Regions from separate parts of the Homo sapiens genome. Here all the other regions are linked to region 4. Evidence: fine-mapped expression QTL. A gene starts in region 4. Each other region holds a variant in brackets. All regions are shown on one strand. Distances are between the middles of the regions.

Region 1 (8,463 bases), 290 kb before region 4:
TAGGCTGGGGGCAAGAGGTGGTGAGGAGCACCAGGGTTTATTGATTATAGAACAAGCTCCTTTAGAGGGATATAAAGCACCGCCAAGTCCTTTGAGTTTTAAGCTGTTGCTTGTGGTACTCTGGTGAATGGTTTTGTTAATATAACTATTAGAGTTTAGGGCTAAGCATAGTGGTGTATCTAATCCAAGTTTGGATTTTAGCTATTGTGTCTTCAGGATATTAAAGTCACTTTCATAGTATATTTTATGTCAGCTGGAGTTTTTTACAGCTTAGATGGAGCTTAGTTTTATTGAGGGTAGACCTTAAACACTCTTTACGCCAAGTTCTATTAGCTCGAGTTAATCTTATGGCCGCAGTGGCTGGCACAAAATTAACCAACCCTAAATATTAGTATGGCTTGGTCAAACTTTCATTTATTACTAAGGATTTATCACTGCTGTTTCCCTTGGGGATATGGTTGAGCAAAGTGTTTTGAGCTGCATTCATGCATGTTTGATACCTGCTCCTTTTGAGCCGGTGATCCAGAGGGCATTTTCACTGGGGTGGGGATGCTTGCATGTGTAATCCTACTAAGAGCTAATGAAAAGGCCAGATTGTTTATCTGTTTATCTACTAAAAGACATCTTGGTTGCTCTGATGTTTTCGCAAAAATTATAAATGAAGCTACTAAAAACATCCATGTGCAGGTTTTTGTGTAGATACATAGTAATTTTTAAGAGTGTAAAATTGTCAAAAATTAATCAAAGCTTGTAAGAAACATTGATCTAGTATGTCTATTGTCCCAGGTAACGCTTGTATTTCACGGCCTTCTTTCCTTTTTTTGAACCAAAGCAGAGGATTTGGTAGGTCTCTCAAGCATTATGACTAAGAATATGAGAGAAGTAGATTTTATTAATGAAGATTTTCATACTTATCTGAAGCATTTTTTCTGCATTTTCTGCTGAAGCATAAAATGACTGTGAGAGGAAGCCCTTTTGCCTTGAACTAAACCTCAGGAAGGCCAATGATCTGTGATAAATACCCGATTTGCCTGTCCTTCTTGTAGCTTCCAGAATGAGAACAGAAAAGCTAGAACCGGAAAGAGACTCAGCAGATACCCACTCCACCTCATTTGTTTTGTAAATATAGGAACTGCAATCCAGAAAGGCTATGTGTTTCCTGTAAAGTCACATGACGAAGTTGGCACATCTCAATGGGAACCCAGTTTCACTGACCCACTGCCTCTTCCTTTTGTACCATATGTCTTGAAATAGCTTTAGTTTTAAAATTTCATTATTGCTTTCTGACTTTATAATGGTGTTGACCTTAATCTCATTGCAATTAAATGACTTCTTCTTTCACATGATTCCTTGTGGGTAGAATTACACACAATTACTGCAGTACAGCATAAATTCCAGAGCTACTGTTAACTTGAAATGATGAGTAAGTACAGGATGACCTTTGCTGATCAAATATAGAAACAGAAGAGGTACCCCAGATTGTGAAGAGGGTAAAGTTGCTCAACATATTCATGTGTATCTATATATGTTCAGGCCTGCAAACTGTGCAAGCTGTGGGGGTCACTGTGAGTTCACATGTTTGATTAACTTATACAACTTTTACCTTGACTCTTTTTTTTTTTTTTTTTTGAGACAGAGTCTCGCTCTGTCACCCAGGCCAGAATGCAGTGGTGCAATCTTGGCTCACTGCAACCTCCGCCTCCTGGGTTCAAATGATTCTCCTGCTTCAGCCTCCCGAGTAGCTGGGGTAGTACAGATACGTGCCACCACACCTGGCTAATTTTTTGTATTTTTAGTAGAGATGGGGTTTCACCATGTCAGCCAGGATGGTCTCGATCTCCTGACCTTGTGAGCTTCCCGCCTTGGCCTCCCAAAGTGCTAGGATACCTTGACTCTTAAGTTTTCCATTTCCTTTCTTATTTTTCTTCCATGACACAATAAAGACTAAAATACAAATCCTCTGCAGAAGCTATATCACATAAAGCATATGCATTATTCTTGAAAAATTATGCAATTTTTATCATTGAGAATAGTATGTTGAAAATAAACTCATTTAGTTAAAATAGGGATAATCACTTCAGCTAAAGATTTCTTTCTATACAAACCAATTTTGTTGTCTTATGGTCACAAATTGGATTTCTAACCTGGAGCAAATTCTCACAGTCATGTAATTGATCATAAAGTAAATTCGAAAAGTGAGAAAAATTAGAATGCATCTAATGCTATGACTAGAAACAAACTCAGAAATTTATCTCCCAGTGTTTATATGACCATAGTAAAAGCTCTGTACACATGTGACTGAGTGTAACCATTAGGCAAATGTTGAGGATGCAACACTAAATGATGTGCACATTTGACATTCAAACTTTTGGTTTTATTGGTATTGACTATCAAATAATTTAACTCAGAAGATAAGTTTACTTTGAAAATTAAAAATCCCAATGTCTTGTGGGCATGTGTGTGCATGTGTGAGTATGCAGTGTGTATACTGGAAAATTGCCAGTGTTTCACCGTATGTTCTCAAAAACCAGTTATTTTGAATAGCTGAAAAAAAGCATCCCTGCACCTTCAGGTAGTCAAGTGATCTTATTATTATACTGCATCTGATAAATCACTTGGTGCTATTGTGGGCACAAGTATATAAAAAAAACTGGCACTCCTCCTACCTTCCTTTGCCAACACATAAATACCCATAGAAACTCAATATTATCTTAGGATGAAGACCAACACATTTTCTCTGAGATTATTTATACTACTTATATGGCCAAAAATTTTTTTTTGATAAATATCCTTGGTTATTTTTAGTGATCAAGAGGCTCACTCTGTTCTCTACAGAAATTCTCTCTTCAGAGCTCAGATATCTCTGGTGGGTTTCTCATACATTGAAATGGGGCAGTAACACTTTTTCCCATTAGTGGAGTTCAGTATAAGGCTATTGCATCTGGACCCCATTGCAGAAGGATCAGTTATCCAGATGACAAATGTACCGTTTTATAAGGCAGTCTCCCTCAGAGTTTTCACTAAAGTTAGAGTTATAGAGATGCTTTGAGTACCAGTTATTTATGCTTCTCTGTCTTTCTTCATCAATAATTATGTATGTCTATATTTAATATTAATGAAGGTGTATAGTTTCATTTCCCTTTTTTTTGGAGAAAAAGTCTTACTTTGTCACCCAGGCTGGAGTGCAGTAGTGGCTCAACCCTGGCTCACTACAACCTCCACCTCCCAGGCTCAAGTGATCCTCCTACCTCAGCCTCCTGAGTAGCTGGGACTACAGGCACATGGCACCATGCCTGGCCAATTTTTTGTATTTTTGGTAGAGATGGGGTTTCACCATGTTGCCCAGGCTGGGCTCGAACTCCTGAGCTCAAGCAATCCACCTGCCTCGGCCTCCCAAAGTGCTGGAATTACAGGTGTGAGCCACCACGCCCAGCCTGAAGGTGTGTAATTTCTACAAGGACCAGAAAATGATGCATCCAGCCTATTGGGTGGTTGTATCCAAGACTATGCTATTTCAATCAGTGGAATTATTGTTTAGGGTCTTCAGAACTCTTAAACACGTCAATAAACTTGAAGATAAATACAACATTAAAATGAATTATAAAATTTTTATCCTTTTTCATTCATTCAAGTACTTATTGTCTACTTACTTTGGGATAATTACTGTCATAGGCACTACAGATCAAATATAGATTTTTTTTTAAAGACATGGTCTCTGCTCTCAAGGAGCTGACAGTCTAATAAAATTCAGAGGCCCCCATGGCTAGGAATCAAGCTTGTCAGACTGCTTGGTTAGCTTTTTAGTTCGTGTTTTGGGGAATTATCTTAATACTTTGGCTATATCAAGGCTTAGTTAGAAGAGGTATCTTGGAGCAGGAAAAGTAAACAAGACTGAATTCAGTGCATTTATTTTATAATTTACCAAGGTCTAGCCCTACCAATATTCTCACTACTGTCTTTGCCCTAAAGTTGGTCAGAAGATATTAAAAGCCAGAGGATAGAAATATATACATATACATGTATAGAGCTGTACTCTACTCAGGACACAATTGTAAGAGGATATCATTCCATCTGTAAAACTATTTTCTTCAGAAAAGCAAGACAACACATTCACTGAAGGTCTTTGACATAAAAAAGAAGTCCTCTAAGGAAAGTTTGATGGTCTGTAATATTTTTATTCACTGTTTGAAAGCTATTATAGCAGTCCCAAACAGGTCCCAAAAGGAGGGGGAACAACGACTTAAGTATCACCATTGCTACAGCAGAGACACATATGA[A/G]TACCACTCGCAGTATTTAGCCTAAAAAACCATGGCATGTGTTTCTTCCCTCTCTAGCCCCGCCCATGTCCACCTCTTCTTTGTGGCTATCAATCTTCCTTAATGCAATCATTTAGGTAAAATGAGCTGCTTTGCAGCTCCACATGTTGGTGTTTACAGCTCTTTATGAGCCAATAGGATAAATATCTATGGACATTGCAATATCTCTGCTTGGATGGACGTTGATGATATTGAAGAAAACGGTAAGTTACTGAGGGGAAATCAATCATGTGTACATATATGTTGATGTCTTGCTGAAGTGAAATCATTAGGCAAGAAGTGAATAAACACCAGGACTCCCTTTATGCTTCTAGACTTTGCATAAAATGAAGCAGGGTGATAATAATGGCAGTAGTAGTGGCCAGGAAGAAGGGAAGAAGGAAAGATCAGACAATGGTTTTAACAAGACAAGCAACAGTTTCAAAGAGAGCATATGCTTACTCAAGGGGGAATTATTGTTAGGTTTGGATTCCAGGCAAAAAAATTATCTTCCCTCCAAAAGGCTGTGGAATAATCATAAACACCTCCATCCTCTCCTCTCACACCATCTCAATGCAGAGACTCTGTTCTTGGGAACCTGGGAAGCCTGCAACCCAGGCTCTCCAAATATTGGGCTTCAAGAAACACAGGACCTCTTGAAATTATAGTCAAAATATGTGTGTGTGAATGTGCATTTTCCACTGAAAAGGTTTATAACTTTCATTAACTTCTCACAAAACACTCTGAGTCTCAAAGTTCAAAACTACTGCTATTGATAAAACATTGCTTTCAGAGAACACACATATAAAAAGGATTCAGTAGGGATCAGGAGTAGTACAATATTACCTAACCTGATATTTTCAGAATATAATTTCCACATAAATCACTGGATAAAGAGAAATTACTTAGAGACTGCCCTTTGCACAAAACATAAACAACTCCTTAAACTCCATACTAAGAGTTCTGAAGCTGGAAGTAGTTACCTTAGAGCAGTGGTCATGAGATGAGCAATTTGGAGCCTAGAAAATTAGATTTAAAGTTGCCAGATCACTGAGTCCCTTAGTGGCTCTTCATTTTTGTGGTGTCGTTTTTTTTTTCTTTTTTGAGACAGAGTTTCACTCAGTCGCCCTGGCTGGAGTGCAATGGCTTGATCTCGGCTCACTGCAACCCCCTCCTCCTGGGGTCAAGTGATTCTCCCACCTCAGCCTCCCGAGTAGCTGGGATTAAAGGCATCCACCAACATGCCCGACTAATTTTTGTATTTTTAGTAGTAACAGGGTTTCACCATGTTGGGCAGGCTTGTCTTGAACTCCTGACCTCAGGTGATCCACCCACCTCAGCCTCCCAAAGTGCTGGGATTACAGGTGTGAGTGACCATGCCTGGCCATTTTTGTGTTTTAAGGTATCATTTGTTGGGCACCTACCATATGCCAGTAATTGAACTGGACACTATATGTACATTAATTTACACATTTCATTTTCATGGGTAACACAATGTTTAATAAGCTTGTTCCTGATTCTTGGGTGTTTTTCCAGAGACCCTAAAAGCCAAGAATAAGTAAACAATCAATGGCAAGCACTTCCACAGCACAAAGCAAGGTTCTGGTTCACTGATACAAGACAGACTACAAAACAGTAAAAGCAAATCTTCATTAGCCAATCACTCACCTCCAACCTTCATGAGAGAGCTAAAAAGGCCAGTGATTTTGGTGGGGATCATTTCGGAGTGAGGTGCTGATGTGCCTTTGACATTCCCTGACTCACCACCACCCTTCCCCATAGAGGAAGATGGTGGAGAGCTTCACTCTCACCTGTACCAAGTGAAAAAGAGAGGCTTCAGGAACATTCCTTAGAGGGTTTAGCATGTGTTCCGTAAGGCTGGGGAGTTCCAGGCTGAGGCTATTCTTGCTAGGAGAAATCTAAGGTAGGAGGCTGTCTGTAGCAGAAAGATCAAGGGGATGTGGTACGGAGAGCAAGCCACACTTGTATTCATGGCATGGGTCTTTGCCATGGACCAGTTGTGGGCTTTATGGAAGAGAGGTAGCCTGGGGTTGTTTGGACAGGGACTCTACCTGAGAGGACTATCTGGAGATGTGATAAATATCACAGAGGAAAGAATCCCCAGAAGTTCAAGTGTTGAATGGAGAAACATAAATGCCCTTATAGAGGAGAGGCGTGGCCTGCCACACTAGAAGTGCATTCTTATGTCCTCGGTGTGGAATCTGAGAGTCTGCTTTGGACAACATGTCTAATGGCCAATACCACTTGACAACTGTATCCATCAGGTGAGACATGTTTCTCTCTTATCTTTCTTATTTTCTACATACCATGTGGGAATATACCAAAGCACTGTCACATAAGTAGGGAAGGAGGTAAGGCAAGGAAGAAAAAGCCCACTTTGCCCCCTTTTTTTGTGTAGGCTTTCAGTCTTGCAGCAGGTTTGAATTGGTGCTGGAGAGAAGAGTAATTGGACAAGAGCTGAAGGCTTGTTATTGTGGTGGATAAAACTAGATTGGACTTTTAGATAATCTAAAAATAATGTGACTATATACCCTGATTTGCATAGGCCATCTTTGATTTCACCTGATGCCCTTGTGTAGATAATAAATAGCCATCCTTTCACTTTCAACAATGAGATGATTTGGATGATAATTTATACGGTCACTCAATCCCAGAGCGATTCTGAAATTTATGGTACCTGATTGGAAATTTCATCCACTGATGGGAGAAACAAGCGAATATTCCAGTTACAAAGTGGAGATGGTAGGAAAGGATTGTTTCCTTTTTATACATAAAGTAATGTAAGAGGACACTGAATGAGAACAAAGGGGGAAATATGGTCATAGTGTATCATTAGAAAATATTTATAGTAAACTTTATAATTATCTTTCTAGATTGCAAATGCAGTCCTCCTCAAGAGACAGTCTTTATATCTTGATCTTATCTCTAGGTAAATATTATTTTCTATGGTTACATAGAGATATCAAGATCTATTGGAAACTCTTGATCATTACAATCAAGATTCTGGTGACCAAAATGGACAAAAACATGTAAGCAGATTGTGTTACACAATTTTTATCCAGAGGAGTTATTTCTATCCAGATGCATTTTTCATTACATAAGAAGACAAGAAAACCGAGAAAAACTCTAAAAAATAAATTCTTGCTCAGCTAAATTATGCTTAGAAAATATCCTGTCATTTCAACTAAAAATATCTTGTTTTTTATGTATGGCTATTTCCCTGAAAATGACATTAAAAAATCATGGGAAATATATAAATATTTTAGTCGTATATTGCATAGTAAAAGTATAATTTATCATAGAAACCACTCACTTCTATCAAAATAGTCTGAGGAAACAGGTGTAGAATAGATTATATTCCATTTAAAACATTGCTTGCTTTATTGTTTTTAAATAGGCTTATGTGAAACTCCACCCGCTGGGAAAAAATGAAATCAGGATGAATCATACATCCAAAGGTCATTGATCTAAAAATATAGGTCTTGTAAAATGAATAAACATATTCTATTTTGTGAAAGCATCAAGTGAGAGGATTTTAGGATCCTTCCAAATCATTGAAGTCTCCCAGGTTGTTAATTAATTTATCAGTAACAGAGGAGGCAGCCACTCTAGTGCCCTGTCCTCCTGGGGAAGCAGAGTAGATAAAAGGTGATCCTGCTGAGGAAGGATAGAGATCAAGGGCCTTAACCTCTCCCCAGGAGAGAGAGAGAAGCATATGTGCAAAACAGACAGGAAAGCTCAGCCCTCTCTTGATTGCTTCCATTGAAAGCAGACTTAGTAGGTCCTCAGGAAATACTGCCTATGATGATGAGAAGCATGCAACACTTCCGGGCCAGAACACAAAATTGACCAATGAAAACAGAACTAGTATTTGTTGTCATCCAAACATTAAACAAAATTCTGAAAAGAAATGAAAAACAGACATTTCTCATGTAGAGCCTTCCACAGTTTTTATGGAGAGGGAGAATGATATTAAGAATACCAGGGGTCTACCTGTGTTGCTGGAGGGAGCTAACAGGAATGTACTATTTGCCAAGTGTATTTTTCTTTTTAAATTTTTTAAACTGAGCCCTTAATCAGCAGACAACTTTCTTTGATAAGTATTAGAAGGTACATAAGGCTGGGCACGGTGGCTCACGCCTGTAAT
Region 2 (8,463 bases), 78 kb before region 4:
ATCAGATTAGTTGATGAAAGATTCTAAGGGAAGATTAGGTAATGTGATTATAAGAGAAAGATCCTGAAGAATGCTTGGGAATGGATCCTTTACTCATACATGATTTTGTTCATCAGCTTATATGTAGGATCACAGTCATTTGGAAAATATTGGTCCATTGAAATTTATACATTTTCCAAATGGTGACACACTTCATTATACAGTGTCAAAAGTTAGCCTTCATGACTATCACCACTGATCTCATCAGGAAGTTTTAAGTATTGGATAGCTATAAGCTCACAATGGCAGTCCTAGATAGTGCAGCCGTGGATTGAAAAAGTGTTCTAGTTTCCTCTTTTTAAGCCAAGAATCCATCCTTAAATATAAGAAGAAAATCAGGCCGGGCACCGTGGCTCACACTTGTAATCCCAGCACTTTGGGAGGCCAAGGTGGGCAGATCACCTGAGGTCAGGAGTTCGAGACCAGCCTGGTCAAACATGGTGAAACCCCATCTCTATGAAAAATACAAAAATTAGCCGGGCATGGTGGTGGGTGCCTGTAATCCCAGCTACTTTGGAAACTGAGGCAGGAGAACTGTTTGAACCTGGGAGGCGGAGGTTGCAGTGAGCCAAGTTCGTGCCACTGTACTCCAGCCTGACTGACAGAGCGAGATTCCATTTCAAAAATATATATATATGTATATATATGAAAAAATCAATAGACTTGGTCTTAGAATAAATATTAAAATCTAAAATAATAAGTTTATATAAAAAATTAGCAAAGTGGAATTACTTCTTATGTTTACATTTAAGACCAAGAAAAACTTCAAGATTTCAAAATAATAAATTATTAGACAATAATGAAATTACAAACATTATAACAAGTATACTGATAGTTAGGAAAAATAATAGAGTTCTGAGAACAAACTGCGTTAATCTCCAAAAATGTACACTTATACTTTAAACCTACTAATTTAGAAAATTCTACACAAATATAAATTCCATTAGAATGATTACATCATCACATGTCATGTAGTCTCTGGAGAACTCTGCTGCAATCTGTGAGAGAATGAGAATGAAAAAGGTGCATAATATTAGAATATTGTTATGAAAATAGTTCTGACCATGCATATCCTCTGAAAAGGTCTCAGGACATCCCCAAGAGTTTGCAAACCACATTTCGAGAAATGCTGCTTTAACTCAAATGTGTCTTGAACAAGGTAAACATAAAGGTTTTTACAATAATTTTATATCAAGTCCAGTTTATAATAGTGAACATTTCTTAGGTACATTTTACATTCCAAGCATTAATACAACTGCATTACTTTAATCAAATCCCTTGAGGAATGTTCTATTCTCATCACTGTTCTACAGATGAAAAAATGGATGATGCACAGAGTAGATAAGTCACTTGCCTAATGTCATACATTTAATTAATAATGGAACCGGTATTTGTAGCCAGGGAGGGTTCACACTTTTACTTACTATGGTAATTACTATGGTAACCTTTCTGCCCACATTGCAAGTTTTCCTGATGATTTGTGAATTACCCAAGTTTTGCTTATAAACAATAGCATTTGTTGAATGTCTAGCATTTTAAGAAACTGCCAAACTGTTTTCCATTCCCACCAGTAATCTGTGAGATTTCCAGTTATTCCACATTGCCAATAACTCTTGACATTGCTGAACTCTAGAATTTTAGCCATTCTAATGGGTTTTTGTTTAATAACTAATAATATTGAGCATATGAAGAAATGTTTATGACTGTTTATATACCTTCTTTAATGATTGTCTATTCAGATGTTTTGCCCATTTTAAAATGGAATTGTTTATTTTCTTACTGAGTTGGAAAACTGTATATTCTGAATTAAACTCCCTTGCTGTTGTGTGTTACATATATTTTCTTCTAGTATATGACTTGTGTTTTTGTTTATGTAATAATGTCTTTTGAAGAGCCAAAGTATTTTTTTTATTTTGATGAAGTCCACTTTATCATGCTCTTTTTAAATATTTCATGTTTTTTTTTTCAAATTTAAGCATCTTTGCTTCAAACCTGGTCACAAAGAATTTCTTTTATGTTTTCTTCTGTAAGTTTTATAGTTGTAACTTTCGTACTTAGGTTTACGATTTGTCGTAGTCTGTTTATTTTGCTATAAAAGAATACCCGAAGTTGGATAATTTATTTACAAAAGAGGTTTATTTGGCTCAATGTTCTGCAGGCTGTGCAGGAAGCATGGCACCAGCATTTGCTTCTAGTGAGAGCATGAGGCTGCTTCCACTCATGGCAGAAGGTGAAGGGGAGCCAGCGTGTGCAGAGATTACTGAGAGAGAGAGGAAGCGAGGGAGAGAGAGAGGAGACACCAGGCTTTTGTGTAACAGCCAGCTCTTGAAGGAACTAGTAGAGCAAGAACTCACTGGCTATCGTGAGAACGGTGCCAAGTCATTCATGAGGGATCTGCCCAATGACTCAAACATCTCCCATTTCACTCCACATTCAACACTGAAGATTAGATTTCAACATAAAGTTTGGAAGGTTCGAATATCCAAACCATGGCATGGTCCATTAAGATTTAATTTTTGTATATGGTATGATGTGTGGATAAAAGTTTATTTCTATTTCTATATGGATTTCCAGTTGTTCCAATGGCATTTTTATTAAAAAACAAACAAACATATTTTCTTTCCTGATTTTATTGCCTTGACACCTTTGTTGTAAACACAATTGTGGATCTCTATCTCATTGATCTCTTTGTCACCCCTTTCAAACTGATACCTCACTTTCTTGATTACTTTAACTTTTTAAGTTTTGAAGCAGGTATATAAGTCCTTCAGTGCTATTTTTTCTTCTTTAATATTAATTTGGCTATCCTATGTCATCAATGAAATCTTAGCCTCATTTTGTCAATTTTTACTAAAATGATGGCTGAGATGTTGATTGGAATTGCATTGAATCTATAAACCAGTTTAGAGAAAATTTGTACCTTAACAATATTATACATGGTATATATCTCTCCATATATTTAGACCTTCCTTAATTTATCTCGTGAATGTTCGTAGTTTTCAGTGTAAAAGTCTTGTAAGCCTTTGGTTAGATTTATTGCTAAGTATTTATTAACAGTATCATAAATGAGTTTTTAAAATAATTATTTTCCAGTATTTGTGGCTAGTACAGAAGTTATAATGGAATTTTGTATATCAGTCTTGTATCCTGAAACATTGCTTAATTTACTTCTTAGTTCTAGTTATTTTGTATATCCACTGGGAATTCCTACATGAACAATTTTAAGTATATGTGTGTGTGTGTGTGTGTGTGTGCACATGCATGTGTATGATCCTTGAACAACACAGGGGTTGGGGCACTGACACTCCTGCACAGTCAACAATCCACATAAAAGTTTTGACTCCTCAAAAACTTAACTACTAATAGCTTACTGGTGACTGGAAGCTTTACCGATAACATAAACAGTTGATTGACATGTATTATATACTGTATTCTTAAAATAAAGTAAGCTAGAGAAAAGAAAATGTTACAAAGAAAATCATAAAGGAAGAGAAAATATATTTACCATTTATTAAGTGCAAGTGGGTCATTATAAAAAATCTTCACCCTCGTTGTCTTCATTTTGAGCAGGAGGAGGAAGAAGAAGATAAGGGGTTGGTTTTGCTACATCTGGGATGGCAGAGGCAGAAGAAAATTTGCATATGAGTGGACCCATGGAGTTTGAATCTGTGTTGTTCAAGGGTCGATTGGATACACACACACACACACACACACACATGCACACACACACACACATGCACACACACACACACGTGCACATAAACCTGCAACCTTTTGGCCTTTTGTTTAACTGATTGCAATGGCTAGGACCTAACTTCTGTACAATATTGATTAGAAGTGGTGAGAGCAGGCATCTTTGCTTGGTCCTGAATAATAGTGGAAAAGTGTTCAGTCTTTCATCATCAAGTATGACTCAATAATTATAGTTTTCATAGATGCTTTCTGATGGGTTAAAAAAATTATGATTGCAGAGCTTGTCTCACTTGTTCTCATTATTAGTGTTGGAGTGGGAGTCTCTTGTGACTTTCTGCAATTTAACCAGAAGTCAAAGACCCTGTACTTTGAGCTAACTTTTGTGCTCTGTATAGTAAGTATTTCTATTTACAGAAAGCTACAAATATAGGTAACAAAAGAAAAGGATTTCATATCCTCACAATCCTTCTTTCAAACTTGCTGTTTCCCAATCCACAGATCTTAATGTAATCTGTACTCAGTTACAGTGTAGTACTTTATCACTATAACTCCTTATTTTCTTCCACTTTCAGTCTACTATTCTTATTCAAAATTTTGCCTTAAAAGCCATAAACATCTTTCTAATTTAAAAATCAAATGATATTTTCTCAGTCCTCCTTACCCTCTTCAGACTTGTGACATACACTTCTTTTCGAACACGTGTCCTCTTTCATATTCATTCTCATTGTACTTTTCTAATTGCTGCTTCTCTGTCATAGTCATAATACTTTCTCCAGTCCTTAAACATGAGGATTCCCTGGAGTTCTAAATTTGGTTATCTTCTCTCTATATATGTAGCCTCTTGATCTTAAACAGTTTTAGTTAAACTCCTGACTATAATGGTTTCTGCTATGGGGAGGAGCACAAATTCATCTCTAATCTGTTACACATTTCTGAAGTAAATACTCCGATTTTCAAAAGCACCTCCACCCTAGATTCCCTGCTACCTCAGTTCAAGATCCATGTATCTAAAACAAATTCAACATCCTTTCTCTCAGGCCTACTGCTCTGTTTCTGTTACCTGTTTCCATGAACGGTGCTATATCTTTCTACACAAAACTTCAGAGTCATTCTATTCCTCAGATCTAGTGAGTTGCCACATCATGCCAACTTTAATTTTATAATA[T/C]CTCTAGTAGCCATCTTTTCCTGCCTCTTTCCCACAATTTCCTTCATTTCTTGCTTTCACTTACACTGTTCTTTCTCTGTGGCGTGCCCCTTGCCAAAATCTTAATTTTCAGAACTTAGTCATTTAAAAAAATAAGCTCAAATTCTGTACATTCCAAGAAGGCTTCCCTGATGATTCTTTTGCCACCACCGCCTAAATCTGATATTTCTTATAAACAGTTTTAACTCTCTATCTTTACTTATTCTCCCTTTTTATTGTAGCCATTAGCTATTTAATAAAATTTCTTATATATACATAAGAAAATTCGACTGGGCACGGTGGCTCATGCCTGTAATTCCAGCACTTTGGGAGGCTGAGCGGGGCGGATCACGAGGTTAGGAGTTCGAGCCTGACCAACATGGTGAAACCCTGTCTCTACTAAAAATACAAAAGCATTAGCTGGGCGTGGTGGTGTGTGCCTGTAATCCCAACTACACAGGAGGCTGAGGCCGGAGAATCGCTTGAAACCGGGAGGTGGAGGTTGCAGTGAGCCGAGATCATGCCACTGCACTCCAGCCTGGGCAATAGAGTGAGACTCCATCTCAAAAGAAAAAAAAAGAAAAGAAAATTCAGTGTGTGTGTGTGTGTGTGTGTGTGTGTGTATATACCCCACTCATATCAGGCTTTGAAGAAAATTAAAGAAAGGAATATTTTTTGTCCTTTTATGAAACAGTAAATTTTGATTGAATTATAAATGGATCTACTGACAACTCATTTTAAAATGTATTTCCAATAAGCAAGACATTTTAGAAACTCTGATTTAGCTTTCTTTTATTTGTATTTTATGTTTTTTCTGGTTCATGTTTTGCCCCCTATATTGATTATAGCTAATAGCCTAATATTAATATATTTTATTGAGATTAGTTAATATTAATTGAGTGGCCAAATGATGGATGATTCTGTGCTGAGTGTTTCTGATAAGGCAGTCAAGTATAGAAACATGGATGGTTTTTCATTTAGCTGATTTCACAGCAAAGTGCAAAAGGAGGATAGGAAATTACATGAGCATTGTTGATTTCTTTATCAAGCACAGACCTTGGAAATGCATAAACTCTATGTATAGTGAGATTTCACTTTTTCTGAAAAAAGTTGAAAAACAACACTAATAATAAGTAAAATAGAAAAAGAGAATATATAGGAAAACAAAAAAAATGGCTTGTCAAATTGTGTGTCATTTACAGAGGTGTGTTTGTGTCTTCACATACAAAGAATCCAGGGAAAATAAATGGAAAAAAATTGAATAAATTTAATAATAACAATTTAGTTAGCCTATCTATGTCACTTCCGTGTTTATACCAGATGACTCAGAGCCAGTAGTTCTTTCAATTTCAGCAGAAAATAATTATTGGCAGTCCCAAAGTTGGATAAACTGTGACCTGCATTGGCTGGTTTGATTAAGGCTGGAAAATAGCAAACTTGATTAAGTGACAAAGACAAGATAATGAGGAAAGTTATTTAGAAAATGTGTTTAGAGATTTGAAAAGGGACTAAAAGATAGTTTCTCAAGAAAGTGCAAAAGAAGATGAGAAAATTATGAAAAAGAGTCTGGGGCAACATTTTAGGAACTGTAGACAGTGAAAGCAATTTTATAATGTATGTTAATATTAGCATGATATATAGACGAAAGGTAATCTTCTGATTGGTCTGAGATGAAGTAGTTATGTTAACCCTCAAAAGATGATGAAGTGTGAAATTTGAATTCAGATAACTAAGTTTTCAAGTTTTCTCAAAGTATTCCCTGCAGTGGCTGGTGGTCCACAAAGAAAGGAGGGCTTCTCAGCATTTTCAGTAGAGGAGGTCATCAGGGTATATTGGGTGAACTCAATACACCTATACACCTCCTGAGCTTTGGGGTTTGAGCCACATCACTGAAGTCTGCACTCTGTCATCTGCAAATGGAAGGGACTGCAATAAATAATCTCTAACTCCTCTTCCAGTTCTAAACTCCTATTATGCAAATGACTCTGTCTTTATATTGACTTTTATGTAAGAGGTACTGAAATGAATAGGAAAAATTGTTTGGTATTTCTTTAAATTTTCTCTATTTTGAATCAATTAGATGGCAGAGGCATTAAAAGAATATAGTTGTGGGTTTGGATTTAATGGGAAAAGACTCAGCCTTTCTCAATATGGACTTTGCAAGCATCCAAATATATACCTGCAAAGTATATGTTCAGAAGTCCAAATTCATTTCTGGTAATGATTCTTCTAAACTAATCATTATGTAAAAACTTGGCAGAATTGAGTTTGTGTTGGAATTTGCCACGTCTTTTGCTAACCTGATTCCAGCATAAGCATCAAGGATCTGTGTCCCAGTGTTATGACAAAAGTTCATTTCCTGTCTTAAGAATCAGAAAGAGCTTTACTGCTGGTCAGAAAACTAGAAAAGGTACCTGACTACCCATCAATTACTAATACCTTAGTAGCCTGGTCCCCTGGGCCACCTCCAAAGAAACATCTGCTGAGTCTCCAGGCCTCGAATCTCACACTTCACTTTTATGAGCCTTTTCTCTGGGGTCATAAAAGAAAATTTCTCTGAGAAACGTACTTTGCCAAAGTTTATCCCTTGGCTTTGTTGTAAAGATCCTTTAAATGTGGCAGAGACACCAACAGCCTTTTTAGCTGCCTTTCAATTCTTCTCTGATGCCTAAAACTAGAGAGGCTCAAAGTGAAGTTTTCAAAGGGAGTCTCCTTAGAGTTCACTGGGACCCTGGAAGCATCTCTCATGCCTTCATTTTGGGAATATCTAAACTTCATTACCTTAATTGACATGCCCAACAACCTGATCTTTCATTTTATTCTGTACACTAATTTAACAGATACAATTTAGTCTTTGTTTTCCCAGATTACATTTTTTAGTAGGGGAACTTGAATAATAATCACCATGATATGTCAAAAGCTCCTGGTTTCTCAAGGCAGCTCCACAGCAGGAGCTCTGTAGTTAGATAGGGTTGGGTTCATTTCCTGTTTCTGCCACTCACCAGCTATGGCCAAGGACAAGTTACATGATCGATGTTTCAGATTCTTCTTGTGTAAAAAATACTAAAATACACAAACACACACTCACACACCCTTCCCATAAGATTGTTGTGAAGATTAAATAAGATAATGTATGTGATGTCCCCAACAGCTCTTTAAAGCAGGAGTCAGTCAACAGACCCCATCAAGGACAAGATAGTAGCTACTTAAGGCTTTGCCAGTCATGTGACCTCCATAGCAGTTACTCAACTGCACAGTTTGAACACAGTAGCCATAGACAGTGCATAAATGAGTGGGTGTGGTTGTGCTCCAATAAAAGTTTATTTATGGACATAGAAATTTAGGTCTCATATAATGCTCATGTATCACTGAGCTCCTGGTGTTCTCCTGCATGACAGCTTAGCTTTGTCTGACCCTCTCAGCCCTGCTCCAGCTTCCGCAGCTCCTCCACCGCCTGAACCGCCTCCATTGATGCATCTGTTCTTGTTCTCCTTGTGTTTTTTTTTTTTTTTTTTTTTTTTCTCTTTGCTGTTCTTTCTGTAGCCAGG
Region 3 (8,463 bases), 150 kb before region 4:
CTATGTCTTTAGATCCACAGAGCTTAGCTCTCACTTATGAGTGAGAACATATGATGTTTGGTTTTTCATTCCTGAGTTACTTCACTTAGAATAATGGTCTCCATTTCCATCTAGGTTGCTGCAAATGCCATTATTTCATTCCTTTTATGGCTGAGTAGTATTCCATAGTGTGTGTGTGTGTGTGTGTGTGTGTGTGTGTGTGTGTGTATGTGTGTGTGTATATATACCACAATTGATTTATCTACTTGTTGATTGATGGGCATTTGTACTGGTTTTATATTTTTGCAATTGCGAATTGTGCCGCTATAAACATGCTTGTGTAAGTATCTTTTTCTTTCTTTTTTGTACAATGACTTCTTTTCCTCTCGGTAAATATCCAGTGGTGGGATTGCTGGATCAAATGGTAGTTCTACTTTTAGTTCTTTAAGGAATCTCCACACTATTTTCCACAGTGATTGTATTAGTTTACATTCCCACCAGCAGTGTAAAAGTGTTCCCTTTTCACCACATCCCCACCAACATCTATTATTTTTTTGATTATGGCCCTTCTTGCAGGAATAAGGTGGTATCGCATTGTGGTTTTTTGTTGTTGTTGTTTTTTGAGACAAAGTCTCACTCTGTCACCCAGGCTAGAGTACAGTGGCACGATCTCAGCTCACTGCAGCCTCTGCCTCCTGGGTTCTTCTTAAACTAACTCTCCTCATATAAAAGGCACTAGGTTACACGTTCGATTTAAGTCTTTTGAAAAATCGGTTCCAGCAGTGTATCATGGTATTAGAATACTAAGCATTATTTCTAGAGATATTGCTGGTGACTTTTCCTCCAGATTTAAAGGAGCGATCTCAACCCCTGCCTCAACTCACAGCTCCTTGAAGTGCTGGAGAAGACAATCTCAACCACATCTGTCCTGGCCCACCATACCTCTGGCCTATAAGAGACTATTATCTGGCCTCCAACCACTTATCCCTGCTAGTCTGCCCTCTGTAATTATGCCTCAGTCTGATCATTGTCCTTATTGTTCTCCAACCTGCCAGCTTCCTTCTTGCCTTAGGGCCTTGCTGCTCTCTCTGCCTCTGATGTTCTTCCCCAGATCCTAGTAGAGCAGTTATCCAGCCTAAGGAATGCCACCAGTACTTTGTATTACATTGATTGAAACCAGCTCTTCCAGATTTGAGAGTTCACAGACAGTCAAGATTTCAAAAGCTACAGAAACCTTTGAGTGTCAGGCTGAAAGAATGACAGACTTGAGGCCAGGACAGATGAGAACATTTCTTTCTTGTGAGTTATCAATCAAGTATTAATTGCCCTGTCCTTTCCCATCATCGTAACTGACTTTTAAAAAAATCGTTTACAGTAATTTTTCACAAGAGAATTCCCATAGAGGTAGCAAAAAGTCATAATAATGTCACATAATGTAAGAAATAGAAGACATTATCTAGGCTAAAGACCTCACTTTCAGGTCCCTGTGCACAGGCCTTTCCTGTGAGAGCGGTGGAGACAGGCTCTGATGCAAATTCTGTTTCTCCTGTGGAGATCTGTTATCTAGAACACCCACCCAAAGCCCATCAGAACCTACTTGCCCTTGTCAGGACAACAAGGGGAAAGGGAGAAACTAAAACCCTCATAACCATCTAAAACTGTAGATTATACACATGACACAGAGAGCAAAAGAGAGTATGAGAAATATAAAGAAATCCTGCTCTTCCAGATTTGAGAGTTCATAGACAGTTAAGATTCCAAGAGTTACAGAGACCACTGAGCGTCAGGCTGAAAGCAGAATGAAAGGCTTGAGGCCAGGACAGATGAGAAGGATTCTTTCTTGAGAGTTATCGACCAAGTATTAATTTTTATCAATAGAGTTAACGGATCGTGGAAGAAAAGATATTTCCAAAAGAATATTATGTTTACAGAAGTATATCATGTATCATAATCACATCTGTAGCTTCAACTTTTTATGAAAATAAAAATGAAACTCAGAACTGGTACATGTGGTATAAGTGGGCATGCTGCATCCTGTCAGCCAATACTTGTTTGGTTAAAGGAAGCTAAATTGGAATCGCTGGACCAGATTCCATTTTCCCTTTGCTTCTGCCCGTGGGCTTTCCTCAGTTGATGGTGATTAGGCCTGACGTGAACAGCTCATAAGAGGGGATGTGGGTGATTCAACAGGGGCAGCTAAGGCAGAAGTGTCCAGGTCCCTGCTCAGAGCCAAAGATCCCACACTGGAGACAGGGCTAGGAATGAAAGAACTCTTTGTTCTCACGCACCAGTGTGTGGGGCAGGGGGACGGGAAAGGTAGTAGACTTACCATTCTCAAGTGCTTGTGTTACTGCGTGGTTGTATTAGGTGCTTTGAGAGTTCTCTCTCATTTATCTTCACAATAACTCTAAGTGGAAAATCAAGCTCAGAGGTCCTAAGTCTCATGCCCCAAATTCCACAGCATAGAAATGATAGACCTGGTATTCAAACCTACTGGTGTCTGGCTCTTGTCCTTTCCTTTTCTATTTTTTTTTTTTTTTTTTTTTGAGACAGAGTTTTGCTCTTTTGCCCAGGCTGGAGCGAAGTGGAGCGATCTCGGCTCACTGCAACCTCTGCCCCCCGGGTTCAAGTAATTCTCCTGCCTCAGCCTCTCGAGTAGCTGGGATTACAGGTGCGTGCCACCACACCCGGCTAATTTTTGTATTTTTAGTAAAGACGGGGTTTCACCATCTTGGCCAGGCTGGTCCTGAACTCCTGACCTCACCTGCCTTGGCTTCCCAAAGTGCTAGGATTACAGGCATGAGCCACTGTGCCCAGCCGCTTTTGCCCTTTTCTTACTCATTACTGTCCCTGAAGGACAGGACAAGGAATGCACACGGACAGTTTTTGCATCTTCAATGCCAATTATAACATGGTCTCAATAAATAGTTATTAGAGGAGTGAAAGAAGGAAGAAAGGATTCAAGGAAGAAAGGAGGGAGGAACAAGGATACTTAGTGAAGAAAATACAGAAGATAGCAGAAAAACCATCAGGGCATCCTTAACCAAAGGTAGAACCATGCAAGAGTCCGATCAAATTATATTTGTTTTTCTCATGATGAAGACCTTCTCATTCTTTGCCTTAGCTCAGCAAATTTTTGTTGTTGTCTATATCATTTATTTCATTACAAATTGCAATTTGATGATTTTCTAGTTACCACATTTCTTTTATATGTATTAGCTGGAATGCTTCTGAAAAAAAAATCTTTGTATTATCAACTAATACTTTTGGTTACCTTGAAAATCTTTTTGGAAGTGAAAAGCATAAAAAGTTTAGAATGATCATGCTTTCAAGGTGATTGGGATCAGAAAAATGTTTTATTCTTGATCTTTGGAGCAAGCATAACCACCATCACTTCAAGTACACTGGCCACGACCCAACAGTTACTCCACGTCTCTGACTAAG[A/C]CTTCAGGATTCTTAGAACAAAAACCACAGAAACTTGGGCATTTTCCTAAATATGTCTTAGGTTTTGAGCCATTGCCAGACATGTTAAATTATTTAATGTAATTCATAGAGAGTATATAATTATGAACTTGGCAAAGCTAGAAGAGATAAGTAAACAGAGAGAGTTTTTAATATAATATACTCTCTGATAGTGAGCTATCTCACATTCTGCAATATATTTATAGAGAGGAGCGCCACACCTTCATAACTACATAGCAGGACACATGTACCCTGGTCAGGCAGTTTCTCCTTCTCAGTCTAACCTTGCATGTCACAAATTGAAGCTAACAATTTCATATGATTCCTCCATCTCATCTCTACCCTCAGCCCCAAAGGAGTCTCCCATGTTCCCAAGACAGGAATTGGAATATCTAGATAATAGGGGAGGCCCATTGAAGAGTTATTTCAGACAGATTTCCTGTCAGGCACTGGATTTGCTCACATGCCTGGTCAGATTATTTTCCTTAATCAGTGTTTTCAATTTGTGGGAAAAGAAAACCAGTGTCAGCAAATTGCCAATGGAGATGTTCTTTTGAATTACTTACTAAGGATCGTTTGATTAGAGCAGAAGCAATGGACCCTGTGAAATATATGTTCTGGAAACCAATTTTGTTGTGGAGACTTTTTCCAGTTGAGTTGCTGTTTGTGTGTAGATAGTTCTTACTGGAACACAACCAAAATATTTTTAACACCCTGTTAATTCTAAGACAACACTTCTCAATGTTGCATATATAAAGATTTGGTGGAATATGTACTCTTAAACCTGTAGAAACATATCTATGACTTTTTCCTTTTACATTTTCTCTTGAAACTCTTATAGTTTAAAAATGCCAACATAAATGATTTCTATGTATATATATATCCATTAAAATAATTATGTACTTGTAACTTATTTTTTCTAAATATCTGCTTTCAACAGAGAACAAACTAACTTCATTTACTTTTTTCCCTGATCTTTTATAACATAAACCATTACTTGAATTAATTAAAATAATGGCTATATTCTATTATAGGTATTAAAAAGAAGTTTTTTTGGGTATGAAATATTTTGAGATTTGTTATTTAAATTATGATCTATTCATAGGATGGGATAGTATCCAACCATTGATAATGATAATAATAATAGCTCATAAATATAGTGCTTACTTTGTGCCAGATGTAATACATGCTTTACATATAGTAACTTATTTACTTATCACAGCAACCTTTTGAATTGAGAAAACTGAGGTACAGAAAGGATAAGGGACTTGCGTAATGTCACACAATAGGTAAATCACACATTGGGACCTAAATCCAGGTAGTTCGGCTCCAAAGTCCGGGGGTAAAACACTTCATCATGTTGCTTCCCATTTGAAATCACATTGCAGATAAATGAGGACCCCTATAAATATGTTTACAATCTACTGTTAAGGGAACAAAGCAGTATTGGACCAATTGTATTACATACACTGATATGTGTGTATCAGTTGTGATATATACATCTACATATGTATATATATTTTGGATATATGTATGTATACGTGTATACACACACATAAATACAAACACATAGATACACACAGAAAGAAAATTGGAAGGTTATATTATACACTAAAAGTTTTACAGAAGTAAGCTATTGGTAATGAGATTACCAGTGATTTTTTTTAGGATGCTTCATATTTTCCAAATATTTATCATAACAATGTTACTATTTTCATAATTTTTAAAGTGCTAGTTATTTATTTATTTATTTGAGGTGGAGTTTTGCTTTGTCCAGGCTGGAGTGCAGTGGCATGATCTCAGCTCACTGCAACCTCTGCCTTCCGGGTTCATGCGATTCTTCTGCCTCAGACTCCCAAGCAGCTGGGACTACAGGCGCACGCCACCACGCCCAGCTAATTTTTGTATTTTTAGTACAGACGAGGTTTCACCGTATTGGCCAGGCTGGTCTCAAACTCCTGACCTCGTGATCCAACTGCCTCGGCCTCCCAAAGTGCTGGGATTACAGGCATGAGCCACCGCGCCCAGGCTAAAGTGCTGTTTAAAACTATAATCTTCCATGAAAGGACTACATACTCTTTTGCTGGTACTTTAGATGTTCAAATACCCAAATGTTCTTAGAATAAAATAATATATATATTATAGCCCCAAAACTTGTTAATTTCCTTTCCAAACCCCTTTTAACTTGCTAACTAAAGGATGTTAAGCACTGTGTGGAGAGAACCCAATGTGGAATTATTCTTTTCCCAACACTCCACCCTTCAGATTTCTCTCAGACGTCTTGGCCTTTTCATTGCTCCTGTCCATCAGGGTAAGGCTTCCATTGCCCTTTCTCCAGCAGGTAGCACCACTTCAACCCCCTAATATATCAAAGGAAACTTCACAGGCTGCATAGCTATATGGTCCAATGTGTTTCCTAACCATACAAGATATTTAGATCTAATTTAATTATCACTAAATAAAATGAAGAATTCAGTTCCTCTGTCACACTAGCCACATTTCAAGTGTTTAATAGCCACGTGTTATGGGCAGCTGCCTTGTTAGACAGAGCAGATACAGAACATTTCATCATTGCAGAAAGTTTTTCGGACAGTGCTGTTCTAGAGGCATGGTGAATCATGACTATTCTCTTCCCCGGCCATTTATGCTGCCTGGCTGGGAAAGTGAATATTCAATTCCTGGGATGTGTTTGCTTGCTCTGGGATCCACAGATTGCTTTTTTTCATTCTTCTCTCTCTCTCTGCTTCTGTTAGTCTTGCCAGAGCATCTAGGAATAGCAGAGCTCTTCCACAGCAATGGTTAATCTCTTGCCAATGGTCCATATGGGCTCTGGAGATGAGATTTACATTTCCTTGCAGCATAACTTTTGGCATTTATTGTGTTAAAACACCATCTGCTTTCTTCTCAGTTTTGAGTTCCATTATAGAGCACTATTCACTTAAACCTTAAAGGAAACATGTCCAATCACATTGAAGAGATATTATCATATTTTTGATCTGGGCAACTGAAAAGATAGTATTTTTGAATATAAAGTGTCTAGGTATATCAAAGATAAGAAATCTGAGAGCTAAAGAGAAGATCTTGGAGCTATCATTTTGGGACTCGTTAGTTTGTAGTTAACAATGGAAGCTGTTGTAATTTATGTGATTATCTACAATAAGGGGAACATTAGTCTCTCGTGAATTTTGTAAAAAAGAAAGAAGAGGATGTGTACAATTATATGCCTAAGACATAATTTTAAAAGTGGTAAAAATAAAGGGTTAGTGCCTGAATCAGTAAAGAACTGTGTTCAGCAACTCATGACAGTGATAAAATTTGAGGGGCTTATGCAAATTAGAGATTTATTTCTCAGGTAATAAAATCAGAGGCAGGTATTCCAAGGTTGGTTCAGCACCTCTGTGAAATCCTCAGGGACCCAAGTTTTGCTCTTCTTATCGCTTAATTCCTTTCTTCAAAATTACAAGATAGTTATTGGAATTGTGATTGTCACCCACATTGTAGCAGACATTCCTGCAGGTGACTCATCACAGTCTCCATGTTCTGGTACTCATGCTTTGTAGAATCCCCATTGAGCATGGGCAGGACATGTAATTTGCTTCTAAGCAACAGAACATGGCAAAGATGATGGGATGCCACTGCCATAGTTATGTTACATTATGTCACACTCTGTCTGGCTAGCACACTGACCCTAGAGTCCTCCCCCTCAACCTGCCATGAAGTGAGCAGCCACACTGGAGAAGTCCACCTGGCAAGGAACTGTGGGTAGCTTCTAGGAGCTGAGGATGTCCTCCAGCCCGAAACTGAAACCCTCAGGCCTGTAGTTACAAGGAAATGAACTCTGCCAACAACCCAAGGGAGCTTGGAAGAAGATCCTCCCCCTGTAAACCTCTAGAGAGACTGCAGCCCCAGCCAACATCTGGACTGAAGCCTGGGAAGACTTTGAAGTTGAAAACCGGCTAAGCTGTGTCTGGCCTCCACACCCACAAACTGGGAGATAATAAATGTATATTATTTTAAGCCACTAAGTTTGTAATAATTTGCTATGCAGAAAAGAAAACTAATATACCTATATTCCAGAAAGAGAGAGAAGACCAGGGGAATGAGCCACAAGAGGCAAACATCAGACGTTTTTGCCAGTTTTAAAGACCTTTCCTGGATATCCACTGAAGGCCTTTCGTTTATGTTTCATTGAACATCTATCTATATCTATCTTTCATTACAAGTGAGGTTGATAAATGAAATCTTACTAAGACACAATATCTCAATGAATAAATTCAGAATTCTGTTACCGGAGAGGGAAAATATGTTTTAAAATATATATTGGTAGACGACTGGCTCTGTCTGCCCCAGCCTTCATTTATTACTTAAATAACCCCTTTTTGCAGTCATGAATGTTATACCGTTACCCTTGCCACCTCCACCCATCTAGGCCACTAATACCTTATAATTTATTCCTTGTCTATGGCTAACAGAATTTTCCAAAGATTACCCTGACTTCTTTTTTTTTTTTTTTTTGCAATGTAACCTTGGGATGTTCCCATGTCATACTAGAGTCTGTTTCTTTACATTCTTAAATTGTTTCAGGCTTTTTGACTATTTTAATCAATAGAATACAGTGAAAGTATCACCTACCATTTCCGGATGTAACCCTTAGTTCATCTGGCTCTTTCTGCTTCTTGCCTCTTAGAAGACAGTCACCATGAAAGAAGGCTGACTACCCTGAGGCCTCTTGTTATGAGAAGCCCAAGTCACATGGAGAGGCCATGAGAAGGCACTATAGCTGACAGTCCCAGGAAAGCCCCCAGCCAATCACTGCAGGAAAGACTCCAAGAAGACATGCTCAACTTAGCCTAGTTATCACACTAAACTATGAGAGGTAATAATAAATTATTAAGCCACTGAATTCTTGGGTTATTACTAGTAACTTGTAACTGAATATTTGTTCACTGTCATTCTCTTCAAGTCTTGCCTTGCTAGTTGAGAATATCAGTTTCATTCTTGGCAATTCATGCAATATTACTG
Region 4 (8,463 bases):
ACTTACAGTTCATTGGCAAGTTAACAATAAATCTGAATGTCACTTCTTTAGGAATCTGAATTCTTGGATCTCTCTTTGTTCTATTGATCTAGAATCACATCACCGAATGTGTCATTTAGAATTTGCTTTTCTCTTTGCTTGTAAGTATTCTGAATTCCTTGCTTGAAGTATTGAGTGACTATATTAGCAAAAATAATGACAACAGATGTGATTATTGTGCGACTAACCAAGACCAGCAGCAGAAGCTTCACAAAGAATCAATATTCGGCTCTTAGCCACAGAGATTAAAGAGGCACATGAATATAAAGCAAATCATTGTATAAGAAATAGTTGAAATGAAATGACATGCTGCTCCATAAAATGATCTAAAAATGGAAGCCACAGAAAAAACTGGCAAAACACCAGAGCTTTGACAAACACATGCACAGACCTGGGAACACCCCCAAATATATATGTATCTTCCTTTATCCTTAATCAAAGGTTTCTAATTTTCACATTAACTAGCAAAGCCTTGAAAACAATGATTACAACACTTTATTTATTTATTTATTTTTGAGACGGAGTCTCGCTCTGTCACTCAGGCTGGAGTGCAGTGGCGCAATCTGGGCTCACTGCAAGCTCCGCCTCCCAGGTTCACGCCATTCTTCTGCCTCAGCCTCCCAAGTAGCTGGGACTACAGGAGACCGCCACCACGCCCAGCCAATTTTTTGTTATTTTTAGTAGAGACGGGGTTTCACCGTGTTAGCCTGGATGGTCTCGATCTCCTGACCTCGTGATCCACCCGCCTCGGCCTCCCAAAGTGCTGGGATTACAGGCGTGAGCCACCGCGCCCGGCCGATTACAATACTTTTAATACTTAACTTACCAAAGTAATTTATTTTTATTCGCTGAAAATGTGAGTCACTTCAGCTGACATTTCTGAAAGCCACATATTGCCTTTTTACTTATTGTTCATTCATTAGACTGAACTTCATGTTGATTTTAGGGCTGGCTAAGCCATTCCCTAAGCTCTTCTTTTTCATCTTTAACTGATCCTCCTCAGCTTGGGGCATACATACAAGAATGCAATGCATTGTTCAGAGAATATAGCATAATCTACTTCCTGATATGATTCCTATGCTACTTGGCCAGCAGTGATGACAACAGGTAGGGAGCTTTTATAGAAGAATGGTGACCCCTCTTTTGAGATCCTCTACAGCTGGCAGGCATCCTTCTGTCCCTGAACATCACAGCCTGTGTAATATCTTGTAGGCCAAACAAAAGTCAGTAAATGTTTAGTGTCTAGAACTTCTTTTAGATTCAGAATGAATATAAGACAATTGGAAAATAAAACAGTAAAAACATTTACAAATGCAAAAATGTGTTGGACAAAAACAACAACAAGTGCAAAAAGTTATTGGACAAAAGGGAAAGTGAGGGTAGAAGAACTGAAATAGAGAGAAAGAGACAGAGAGAAAGGGACATTGGCAGAAATGCTCATTATTCATTTCCTCTCATATCTTTCTCTAAGTGAGCTTTCCTCATTTTTCATTCCCAGAGAACAATTCAATCTCCTTATCTTTTGCCTATGTAAAGTTTAAGGTGGAGGACACCACAACACACCGTAAACCAGAGAGCATGGGTCCATTGCTGCTCAAAGGTGAACAGATAAGAGACATAGTTTTTTTTTTTAAGTTTTTTTAGCAAGTTAAAAGTTATTTTATGTATATTATTAAAAAGTCAAATAACAACAGATTCTGGCAAGGTTATAGAGAAAAGGGAACTCTTATATAGTGCTGGTGAGAATGTAAATTAGTTCAGCCATTGTGGAAAGCAGTTTGGTGATTTCGCAAAGAACTTAAAACAGAAACATCATTTGACCCAGCAATCTCATTATTGAGTATATACCCAAAGGAGTATAAATCATTCTACCATAAAGGCACATGCATGCATATACGTTCATCACAGCACTAGTCACATGGAATGAAATAAACTATTCACAAAATGAATACTTGTGAATATATGTGAATTAATATGTGAATTCACTATATGCAAAGACATGGACTCAATCTAGATGTCCATCAGTGGTAGACTGGATAGAGAATGTGGTACATATATACCATGGAATACTATGCAGACATCAAAAAGAATGAGATCATGTCCTTTGCATCAACATGGACGGAGCTGGAGACTATTATCCTATGTAAATTAACAGAAACAGAAAACCAAATACCACATGTTCTCACTTGCAAGTGGGAGCTAAACACGGAGTACACATGAACACAAAGAAGGGGACAATGACCACTGGGGCCTACTTGAGGATGGAAGGTGGGAAGAGGGTGAGGATCAAAAAACTATTTGTTGGGTACCATGCTTAGTGCTTGGGTGACAAAGTAATCTGTACACCAAACCCCCAAGACATGTAATTGGCCTATATAACAAACCTGCATATGTGCCCCTGAAACTAAAATAAAAGTTAAAAAAAATTCAGTTATGTAACAGTAAAGAAAATTCATCTGTGTAGAAAAATAATCAAAAGATACAGAAAGTTATAAAAAGTAAGAGTCATGGCCATTCCAGCCACTGGTTCTAATTACAGACGATAGCCATATCAACACTTCCTGTGTTTCCTCCCAAACCATTATTCTTACAGCAACATGTATGTGCCTGTGTTATTACCCACATAGCACCTTACTGTATACTAACTCTAAAAAATGGAAAATGATTACATTCTTGTGGTGTTTTGTAAACCTGACAATACTTTTCTGCATCATCATTTTCTAGTCACCCTCCTGCTTTTTCATGGTTGTTTAATGTGCCATTTTAATGGTTCAAAATTAGTGGTTAATTGTTGTTAAATAATGATTAATGTTTTAATAGTTGTTTAAAACAAGGTGTTAGATTGTATGAAAGGCTGTAATCTATTTACTCATTCCACCAATAATGGAAATTTTTAAAGTAATTTGTTGTTTTGTTTGTTTGCTACATGCCACTATTTCTGTATCAGTTTCCTTCATCATAGCTCTCTCGGTGCTGATGTCAGCACAATCTTATTGTTTTGACATTTTTCTCTAACCATATTGAGACTGTTCTCACAACAAAATATGCACATCTTAAAATACCATCTGGCTTCTCAGGTCCACTTGAGACTGGTGACCTCACTTTTGACCTTGCCCTAAAAGTCAACTGGAGTCCATATACCTCAGGTACAAACAGCTTTAATAAGCTGCCACTTCCTGTTCCTCTCATCTTCTCTCTATGGCAGGACTCAGAGCATTAACTAACCTAAGGGCCTGGTAGAATGTAAGCTGGAGGTAGAGTAGTTAAAGTCTGTGCATTTTGTACTGGTCATTTTCCAGTTCGTCTGTTGCTAAGAAACAGCAACAGAGGCCCGCTCTAGAGGGTTACAAACTCCCTGGAATTATGGCTCCCGGACATGGTGTAGGGAAAGGTGTCCCACAGGGATCAAGCCTAGAATATCGCTGGATCTTGTACAGTTTAGTAAAGGGCAGGACTGGATTTAACATAACGTCCACCAAACTACATTACTGAAAATTTTTGGTGCTTCACTCAACTAGTCTCATTGACTAGAAGTGAAAATATGTTTTTCTCAATATTACCAGCTTTAAATTTGCCATAAACTGTTGTGGGACCAAGCCACAGAGGAAATGTTTTTCCGCTAGACAAAGATAAGCATGAGGATGCCAGCAACAGAGGATATTCCTTTTAAGGTCTGTCCATTGCAAAGTACACACGTACACGCTCACACAACAAACACGCCCTGTTCCCTTTTGCTTGTGTTAACCACTGAGGGCAGATCTCTGAATAATAATACATTTAGTGGGTCCACAAGAGCTGCATTTCCTCTGCTCCAGAATTCATGCAAGGAGCACGGCTGGGGCTTCTCCACTGTCATTGTTATGGCCTCAAATGAAGGCCTTGTCACCAGGCGGGGGCGGGAAGGCACTGGAGCGCAGCAGCATTGAGAGCATCCGAATTCCCTCCTCTGTCCCTGATTGGTTGAAGAACTGGGGAGCACCGACCAGCCCCCTGCGGCTCGACTCGCCATTGGCTGGGAAGAGGTGGCAATCAGGGCGGGCCAAGGCGGCTGTTCTCGCTCCAGCTCGATGCTGCCTCCCCGGCCCGGTTGCGCTGTAGCCGCTGCCGCCTCTGCCTGGGTCCCTTCGGCCGTACCTCTGCGTGGGGGCTGCCTCCCCGGCTCCCGGTGCAGACACCATGGTAAGTGCTCTCAGCCGGGTGCGGCCCGAACCTCACCCCTCCTCGGCCGGCCTGGCAGCGAGGGAACTGGCCGCGCAGCCGGAGCTTGGCTCGGGGGCCCTGGGCGCTCACTGCCGGCCACGGGAGCAGCCTCACTCCTTGCCCGCGCCCAGTCAGGGGAGGTGGGAACGCCGCGAGTCGTGGCGGGGGCGATCGGTGCCTTTGCTTCCCAGGCGGGTTTGCCGCTCCACACCGCAGCTTCCTGAGCTCGGGAAGGGGAGGTGCGGCGGAGGCGTGGGGTCTTCCCGGCTCTGGCCGGCCCCACCAGTGTGGGAGGCTGAGCGCCAGCGGAAGGGAAGGCTCCGGGTTCGCGTCCCCGCGCTGCCCCCGATGCCCAGCCTCTCCCGGAGCGGTGACAGGTGAGGAGGGTGGGAAGATAGCGTGGGGGTGGGGCGGATGGTGACGGGGAGAATCCACCAGGGATTGGGGGGTTGCGCCCCCACGATCCGACTCCTTTAGTGCATAGTACCCCTAAGGGAGAGGAGTCAGGGGCGGGGTGAAAGGTTAAGCCAGCGCCATGGGAGCAGAGGCAGCAGCCTCGCCCCCAAGCCGCTTCTCAGGTACAGCGGGTCCCTGACGCTCAAGTCTCTCCCTGTCCCCGCAGTACGGATTTGTGAATCACGCCCTGGAGTTGCTGGTGATCCGCAATTACGGCCCCGAGGTGTGGGAAGACATCAAGTAAGTGGCCGGCTACCCTGGCTGTGGCCCAGGTCGGCGCCCAGTGTGGGAGGCCCCCCGCGCCTCGCCTGGTCCTCAGCCTGCTGGCCGGGTCGCGGGCGCGCATCCTTGGAGGTGCCTCCGCGCCTCGCTCCCGGCTCGCTGCAGCTGCGCTCCCACGCTCCGGGACTGGAACCAGGAGGGGAGGGGCGGCTGGGGCGGGGCTGCGAGGGCGAGAACCGCGGAAAGGAGCCCCTAGGGGTCACCACGGCTTCCCGACCCGGCCTGAGCGTGGGAACGCGCTGCCGGCGCTCCCAGGCTCAGCAGGCCGGGCAGCTCCCACGCGTGCAGAGCCCCGAGGGACCACACGGGCCTCCGCGAGGTTCCTGCGCCCGGAGGCCTTAGAAACAAACGGAAGACTTTGGCTCCTTTATGATTTACACACCTGGCGTAAGTTAGGCCTTTTTGGTATGCTGAAACACGCGGGAGATTATTTCTTGAGCAACAGTGAATTAAGCGCATTTATTCATTTTTAAATAAAGTGAAAATTGGAAGTTTTTTGTTTTCCCCAAATCCCACTGCCCACCCCCCCCGCCCCAACCCCTATCCCCCGTTTTTTTCTACTGTGTTGAAGACTTAACAGTTCTAGGAGGCATTCTACTTTCAGTCCTGGAGCTTTGAGCCCAGTACTGGGGATGTGAACGGAAATACCACACCCACCTGAGAGTTTAAACCTGTTGGAATGACTGATGGGTCAGCATGTCTGCAGGCAGGTTGACTATTTCACTCTAATAAAGTTGTCTCTCCTTTTTCCTCTCACTCTCAAAAAATTTGCATTTAACTTATGGTACAGCTGACCACCACCAACTAGCTACTCCAAAACCCTATTTATGGATTTTCATATTAGAGCAACAGTCAGACTATCACATTGTAACAAAGGTGGAAGGAAGGGTTTCCTGGGTGGGCAGATGGGAATACACTGTTATTATTCACTCTGATTTCCTGTACTTAGTGATTTCATTTTGTTGTCTCAGGTAGGTGAGGCTTCCATGCTGTTTTTCCCTAAGCACATTACAATTATTAGCAATCAATTCTAACAGGCCTTATTATGCAGTTACATGATGGTGATTTCTCATAACGATCTGTTTCCATAGAAATGACCAGGGTTATATATTAAGCACGAAAATGTAACTTTTCTTTCCCCTGGATCTGTATCACTGAGCGTTTCTTTCATGTTTCAGAAACCATTTGTATTATCCACAGGGCATATTACCTACATATTATAAACAGAAGCCGAGATTTGGCAAGTATGTGGTTGAATCCAATGAGAACATAGGCACCAAAAGTTACTTTAGGATTTGAATTTTCTGGCCATCTTAATACCATTATAATTTTTATTTTGCTTAGTAGACAGATATCAACAAGGCAGACATCAAAAAAAGATTGTTAACAGTATAACTTAACTACCGAATTATTTTTAAGCCACTTCCTTTGTAAATTTATAAATGCTATATATATATATATTCTCCATATGATGCTTTTGCATCTGTAAGATAGAAATTCCCAAATTTGCTGGTAGATATGCTATGACAATGAATATGCTTAGAATTTTTAGAGCAGAATAAAAGATGGCTATTATGATTAAACAGTCATTATGTAATTTAACCAGATTTAGATTGTATATCCTAGCCATTATCAGTTTAGATCACTGTTAAATACAGAGATGAAAAATAATACTTTATAGAGTAATGTATCAGACATTTTAAAAAGTTAAAATTATCCAGAGATTTGTTTATATTGCTTATATTTTCCCAGAGGAAGTCCAAATATGTAAAGATTCAATTGACGAGAATTTAACTCTGCAAAATCAAGCTGAGAATATTGTTCCATTCTACTTTAAAAAATTATTTATTAACTTACTAATTTATCTTTAAGTAGCTTCCAACAGTATTCATAATTTGTCTAAAGGATAAAAATTCCAATCATCCACAACACAATTTTTCTGGTAAAAATGAAACAAGTTATATTGGTCTTTTCTTAAATAAAATTGCCTCAAGGTTATGCCCCTGCAAGGGAAAAAGTGTTAGTCACACTGGTGTTGGTAATCCAGGTGTTAGTGTTGATTCTTTATTTGTCTAAGCATCTTTTGGTGGACCCCAGCTGATCTTGGGTGTGGTTTAGTGTCTGGGCTAGAGAACATGGTTGAACTCTCTGCACTGAGGGCATTAAAGCTGCTCCTTGGTTTCCAACCCAATACCCCTGAGTAATTACTAAATGCTCCCTGGGAGAGCATTTGCTTTCCACAGAAAAGAATCTTGCTGCCTGGGGAGAGGGGAGGAGAACCTGGAGGAGTGTAATTGAAAAATGCTCCTTGGGTGATTCTGGTTCCTCCTCCCCTCCCTACCCTCTGCTTCAGGGAATATTAAAGCAGTCATTGGTCCAAGATGCTTTCAGTTTTAACTTTTATAAGAAATTGAATATAAGAGGAAAAACATTTTTTTTTGTCTCAGTAAGTACCAAACTCTTATTTTTTCTTTTGGTCTTTGAGAAACTATCTAAATTGATGTTTATACAAATTTACATTATACTTTTTTGCTTCACTAGGAAATGGCCATCCATCCTTCATGAGAAAGGATGGGAAAAGATGCCAAACATTTAATGACAAATAAAACCCTAAGTAACAGATTCCAGACAGCAGACAGAAAATTCTAAGTGGATAAGGGCCAAAAATGCTTCATTGTAAACTCAGTATCCACTTACACTCTTACCAACAATATAACCATTTCACAAAAGCTTTGAATTCCTCTTAAGAAGAAGAAAAATTGTCTAGACCAAGGGCCAGCAAACTTTCTCTTAAAGGGCCAGATAGTAAATGTTTTAGGTGTTACAGGCCAAGGTAAAACTGAGGATATTATGTAGGAATCAATATAACTATTAAAAATATAACCACTTAAAAATATTAAAACCATTGTTAGCTCTTGGACCAGGAAAACGCAAACAAACAACCAAACCAGACAAAGTGGGCTACATGTGATCCATGGGCTATAGTTTGATGACCTCTGATTTAGACCATAACAAATGTGAAAAAGCAAAAGAGACCTCTGAATCCATTTCAAAGTTTTTTTTGTTGATTTCATTTCAATATTCAAATAGTCCTTTTAAGAGGCTATGATTTCTAAGTAATGACAAAAAAATTATCAGGGTAGAAAATAAATAAAGTTAGGAGTGATACATCCTAGAAAAGCACCTAAATACTTGATTTCCCATCTCTGTTATCCTTCCATCAGCCCTGACTAAACTCATCATTGCGTCAAATTACTGGGTTTAATTTTAGATTTTTTCTCTGCTTTCTTTCCATATTTTTTCTGGGTAGCAGCGGAGGGAAGCAGTTAGAGACAGGTCTTGCTGTGTGCCCAAGCTGGTCTCAAACTCCTGTCATCAAGTGATCCTCTTGACTCGGCCTCCCAAAGTATTGGATTATATGCACCACCACACCCAGCCCAACTTTAGATTTTTTAACCTCACTGAAACATACAAATTAGGAAGATA

Alleles and levels. Positions count from the first base shown, and alleles are read on the strand shown. Sizes are in standard deviations (SD) of each study's normalised expression. Not every link is listed here.
With allele A in place of G in region 1, the expression in aorta of the gene that starts at base 4,096 in region 4 is higher (small effect, 0.33 SD a copy in GTEx).
For the expression in fibroblasts of the gene that starts at base 4,096 in region 4, allele A in region 3 goes with a lower level than allele C (small effect, 0.38 SD a copy in GTEx).

The links. PIP is the estimated chance that this variant, and not a neighbour inherited with it, causes the effect.
Region 1: its variant is fine-mapped to the expression of GUCY1B1 in aorta (GTEx, PIP above 0.99).
Region 2: its variant is fine-mapped to the expression of GUCY1B1 in whole blood (INTERVAL, PIP above 0.99).
Region 3: its variant is fine-mapped to the expression of GUCY1B1 in fibroblasts (GTEx, PIP above 0.99).

The regions. Positions count from the first base shown.
Region 1 is chr4:155,465,878-155,474,340 of GRCh38, forward strand. No RefSeq gene overlaps it. Among named protein-coding and RNA genes, the nearest start is that of MAP9, 93 kb to the left of the region's middle. The variant A/G (reference allele first, on the strand shown) is at 4,278.
Region 2 is chr4:155,677,192-155,685,654 of GRCh38, forward strand. The region is part of intron 2 of GUCY1A1 (guanylate cyclase 1 soluble subunit alpha 1); the gene reads left to right. Among named protein-coding and RNA genes, the nearest start is that of GUCY1A1, 15 kb to the left of the region's middle. The variant T/C (reference allele first, on the strand shown) is at 4,898.
Region 3 is chr4:155,601,439-155,609,901 of GRCh38, forward strand. No RefSeq gene overlaps it. Among named protein-coding and RNA genes, the nearest start is that of GUCY1A1, 61 kb to the right of the region's middle. The variant A/C (reference allele first, on the strand shown) is at 3,424.
Region 4 is chr4:155,754,926-155,763,388 of GRCh38, forward strand. GUCY1B1 (guanylate cyclase 1 soluble subunit beta 1) reads left to right here and starts at 4,096. Exons shown (of 14, transcript NM_000857.5): 1 at 4,096-4,218; 2 at 4,862-4,935. The coding sequence starts at 4,216. LOC105377506 (a long non-coding RNA gene) reads right to left here and starts at 3,490. Exons shown (of 8, transcript XR_007058484.1): 1 at 3,265-3,490. RefSeq lists silencers at 4,274-4,423, 4,874-5,143.